Linked DNA regions of Homo sapiens: region 2 is linked to region 1. A link means that fine-mapping ties the variant in region 1 to the expression of a gene that starts in the linked region. Tissue or cell type: thyroid. Region 1 holds a variant in brackets; the other region holds the start of a gene. All regions are shown on one strand. Distances are between the middles of the regions.

Region 1 (2,695 bases):
TGAGGCTCTGTTGTTTCACTCTGTCCACACTCTCCCCCACCAGTGCTCCACTCCTAGAAAGATTCATTTATGGTCACTCTAAAATAAATATTTACTACAGCAGGGTGGTGATTTTAAAAAAAGTTTTGCAAACAGAATACTAAAAATGGTTTTCTAATTACTAAGTCTACAAATTCAAGCAACCATTACAATTTAGTCTCAACAATTAAAATTTTTATGATTTAAAGAAAAATATATGGAGAGATGCTATATATCTATATTTACAAAATAGATATACAATCTTAGTTTACAATGATATTTAAGACCTTTCTTACCTCAAACGTTTCAGTCAGTTCTTTCTCTCTGACGCTGTTATGAGAAATGGCAAGTGACTGGCCCTGGAATATTGTAGCTGTTTTATATACTCAAAGGTATAATGGAATGGAGAAATCTGTGGCTTAAAGGCCTCTCCCCTAGGATCAGTTATTACTCATCAACTATCTCAATATGTTGAAATTGGGGAATAACCAATGTTTAGTTTCCTAGAAACTACCAAATACCAAAATCTTTTGTGGTTTTTTTCTCCAAATTTTGTGTCTTGTATATTTGAAGTTTATCACTTTACATGTTGTTGCTCCATTGTCTACTCTCACAATTTTTTCCTTTACTTCCCACAATTTAAAATACCTCTAAGCATTTTACTGGTATTGATTATAACCTATTGCAAAGCATATTTGATAGTGCTGGAATCTTAAGAAAATAAAAAATCTAAAAATTGTTTAAGATGGGATTAAAATCTTTTGCATGATTCTTCTTTCAACTTCTTCATTTTATTATCAGGATTAGAGCTTCGTAGATGAGTGAATTGTATTTTTGGAGCACCACAGCATCTTGTTTACCTTATGGAACACTATACTCTATTTCTCAACTAAAAATTCACTTACAGCAGAAAAGGTATCATTATTAAGTGCGGGAACAGAAACTAGGGCCCACAAAACATTCAAGAATTACCTTAAATATGCGTGCATATTGTATATGCCTTTTTCAAGAGTCATAAAATTTGAGCTTTAACTAATTCGAGAGCTTTTAAGAATATTCTGTTATTGAGTTC[G/A]ATTTCTACTTCAAAAGAGGTTATATAGTCCAGATTGTAGTAGTAGTGCATCAAAGTCCCTTTTCTTCTTTTTATTTTTTCTAGAATTCAGTTCTCAAGGCAACTCAGAAAAATAATAGCAGGTAAGTTTTTTTGAGGACTTTAAGTGCTGAAGCACAAATTTAAATGCTTTATATATATAATATAATTAAATCTCCCAAACAACCACCTTAAGAGGAAAGTACTATGATCAACACCATCCCATTTTGAGACTGAGAAGCAGAGAATATTAGTAATCAGTCTGGGTATTACAGCTAGTCTCTGGCAGATATTGAATTGAGCACCAGCAATTTGGTTCTAAAACCCACATTTATAACTGGTGCCTTATACTGTCACTGTTAACAGAAGGTTAGAAAAATCAGCACAAAGCCAGAGAAACATTAAACTACTTCCTTCACCTATAACTCAACGTTTAATCTTATCTCAATGATTTAAAGAAAACTGCCTGAATCAGAAACTTAATATATTAAACCTGTTATGTTATTGTACATATTTTGACCAATTTGGGGCTCATAGTACATTTCCCCAGGGATGGGGATGACAGGTGTGTGTGTGTGTGTGTGTGTGTGTGTGTGTGTGTGTGTGTATTATCCATTTCCTTACCTAAAACCTGTCGTTCAATTTATTCTACTTCAATTTCTTTTATCTGAAATAGCTCTAATGGAGGTTGGCAATTGCCACTGAATTGTGAAAACCATAAATGATTTTCTGTCCTTGTGTTACTTCAATTCTTTTGACATTTAACTGTGACTATGCCCATCTGGAAATCTATTTTTCTCTTCCTTGGCTTCTGTAAGCCAATTTTTCATGTTCTTTTTCTTTTAATAGAAACCATAAGTCTTATTTTCTGATTCTTTTTCTCTGATTTATTATACTTGACAATTTATCTTCTTAGTCTTCACTTTCTCTTATAAAGTAATCTACTTCTGACTCCTTAAGCTATGCCTTCAGCTAAAACTCTTCTCTAATTACCCAGAATCTTGTATCCAACTGAATAAGCATCAAACCCAACCTATTCAAAACCTAGCTTACTCTTTTTCCCTCTTAATATGCTCCTCACTTTTATTTAATCTTTCAGCTGATGACCATCAATCACTCAGTTATCCAAGCAATCAATCTAAGACTCATCCTATTTTTTTCTTGTGCTTTCTCTTCCACATCAAATGGTCATTAACTTTTTCCTTCTTATAATGCTCTGGAATAAATATCTTCCATCTTTTTTGTCTTTTCCTTAGTTTAGTTTCTCATTCTTTACTAGAGTGTTACAGTAGCCTCTTATATAGAGTCCCTGTCCGCAGTATTTTTGTCTTCAAGCTATCTTCCACAGTAATGCTATAATGATCCTTAATGTGGCTTTCAAAAATTTTAAAATAAAAGCCACAGTAAAAAATGCATTATATATCATAACTCAGTCTACACACACACACACACAACTGAGACAAGGATTTAATAAAATATTTTTTACATTGTTTACATGAGGAACATACTGAAATTTTCATTTTTTTAAATTTATGTTCTAAACTAGTTTTTTACGTGTCTTTCATTCTCTTCTAATTTATATCTCTT
Region 2 (2,695 bases), 29 kb after region 1:
TAGGAACAATGTTTACTGCAAATATAGCACAAGTCATAGCTGGTTGCTCAATTTCTTGTTAGAAGTGGGACATTTTCTCACTAGGCTTACATTAAATTACAGTGATTAGAAGTTAGATTTAAAACAAGGTTGGGATTTAACAACCTCTCCTCTGTTGGGTATGAGATTGCACAACGTTAGCACATTCCAGTGGTTTAGTCATTTTATGTTTTTAAACACCTATATACACCTGTGTGAGGTGTTATTAGAACAAAAAGATATAAACAATATTGTATCCGCCTTTGAAGAATTAACAATCAATCAAGGGAAGCAGAATAATATTTTAGAGGTAACCTGTTATATAATCAAACATGGACATTAGAAATGTGCTTGGATATACATAAAAGCTAGTGGTGAGGAACACAGTATAAATTAAATGACGACTTCTATCTCTTCCCACTTGATTTCCATTAAAAAAAGGAGGAGATTGTTTTAATTATTTAAACTAACCTCATTGCTATTGCTGGCAGACATGAGACGCTGTGGGATAAGCTAAAAGTAAAAATGAAAAAAAAATCAGAAATAGTAAAAAGAAGGGATTGTTGAAGGTTTAACACAGTGGGACTAGTAGTGCCATAAAATCACTTACTGGGGCTGACAATGTGGCTCCCAGGAATCCAAGAAGAATTATAATTTTCATTTTCGTATGATATATCTAGAAAATAAGTTGTGATCTTTAGCTTTATAAAGACATTACTTAAAATTCATGACAAAATAATTAGTATTGTTCAATCAAAGGAATAGCTGGGTGAATTCTATAGTATTTACTTACATTTTGCAATTTAAAATTTAAAAAGTTATGTTTGTAAATTTCTGATATAACTCTTTATTTTCTCTCAGACAAGCTGTTTATAAAAACCAAGATTGTTTGCTTGTCCTTTTAGCTTGAACAAAATACTCATTTGGAGACATATGATGTGGTTGAATGCATTAAAGAACAAGATGATCTCCTCCTAGTGCTGCCCTACAAGGAGAGGAGCAGGCCCATCAGACCATGGGAGGTCATGACTAAGGCTAACCAACTAGGGACTTATTACTGCAGCAATTTTAATGTCTATGTTGAAAAGTACTTCAATAGAGATTTGACAATACCAGTCCAATACCAGATAATTTCCACTTAGTAGTCTAATAACAGAATAATATACTAGAACTAAGCAACTGAGTCAATGTTTTTGTAATTTATGGCAATAGATTATAAAACTGAACTGTGATATTGATTTATGGTGTAACCTGTTTAAGTATATTTCTCTTGTCTTCTAGATGTGAAACTTTTTTCCCTGCTTCAAATCATTGACCTAATCAAGCATTTAGGGTGAACTTGATAGTCTATCCTGCAGATTTCACTGATTTTGGTTCTTCAAACTATAAAAGCAAAGATTTGATATCTTACCTTACTCCTGGACCTAAAAAGAAAAATCTGAACCATGCGAGATCTGTGTTCTTTTCCTCTCTCAGCTCTACTGCTTGGCACTTCTCTTAAATTTTAAAACTCATCTTTAGAAAAAAAGGACCAATCATTGTTCAAAAAGGACCAGTGATTCAGTGGGTTTCAGACAATGGCTTAGCTAATAACCTCTTTCCTAATCATTTAGGTGGTATATGGATTCCCACACTTTTAGTAATGTTATTAAATTATCCCCTGAGAAATGTTTTCCTGTGATCATTTCTGGCTTCTGGTTTGGTTATGAGTAATTCTCCTAGAATAATTCTCCTAGAATAATTCTATTCTACTCTTTTATAATTCTTAAACTGGATACTCTAATTGAATAAAACTGGATACTGTAACTGAATAAAAGTTAATATCTTTAATAAAGTCAAGGATAAATGGGTGATTATTTTTACTTCAAGGGCGAAATACAGAATTGTTAGGAATCATAGGTCTGAAAAGCAAAACTTCAAAGCCTACTTAGCAGAATTCTTTGCTTCCTCAATGCTGGGCTAAGTAAATGTGGGCTAGTTTCCTTTAGATTTGACCTTGAAAACATCAGTTATTCTCCCTCTACTTACTGAATGCAGTCCTTAAAAAATTGCTAAATTTCCATGTGTCTATGAAATGTATTTGTATATGATCATGTTGCTTGAAATAAATAATTTAATAAGTATAAAGCATGATATCCTACATTTTAAAAAATAGCCGTGAATACATGTTTTTATTGAAAAATGTTTTTGTTATATATTTTAATATTCAAAATACAACTATTACTCTCTGCACATTGTTATTATTTAAATTTCCTTCATAATGGGAGTTTTGTGTTTATTTGTAGTTTTTTTGTTGTTAATATCGACTCCCCTCTAATAGTTCAGGATCACAAGTGTTTTGACAATGTATTATCAATTAATTTTTATTATGGAAGAGTTCTTTTTAGCTAACTTAATCTTGAGCAACTCATGATAGTCTTATGCAGGAAAACAAAATTATTGCCTTTTAATACATTTGTCTTTTTTGGTAGAATGAGACAGAGCTTGCATGGCTCATTAATACTAAAATAATTATACTATTTGTTATTTATCTGGTCAAAAAATCCAAGTACATAAATCATTAGTTAGAATAAAAAGACATTTTTCTTTACTAAAGAAGAAAACCCACCAGTAGGACTTTATATCTATTAGAAAGTATTAAATTGAATTACGTTTAGCCTAAAGCTGCCTCCATACA

Alleles and levels. Positions count from the first base shown, and alleles are read on the strand shown. Sizes are in standard deviations (SD) of each study's normalised expression.
As copies of G replace A in region 1, the expression in thyroid of the gene that starts at base 1,498 in region 2 goes up (small effect, 0.30 SD a copy in GTEx).

Evidence for each region. PIP is the estimated chance that this variant, and not a neighbour inherited with it, causes the effect.
Region 2: ODAM starts here. The variant in region 1 is fine-mapped to the expression of ODAM in thyroid (GTEx, PIP 0.97).

The regions. Positions count from the first base shown.
Region 1 is chr4:70,223,802-70,226,496 of GRCh38, reverse strand. FDCSP (follicular dendritic cell secreted protein) reads right to left here and starts at 373. Exons shown (of 5, transcript NM_152997.4): 1 at 315-373. The variant G/A (reference allele first, on the strand shown) is at 1,091.
Region 2 is chr4:70,194,528-70,197,222 of GRCh38, reverse strand. It overlaps ODAM (odontogenic, ameloblast associated), which reads right to left and starts at 1,498. Exons shown (of 12, transcript NM_017855.4): 1 at 1,430-1,498; 2 at 629-694; 3 at 490-531. The coding sequence starts at 679.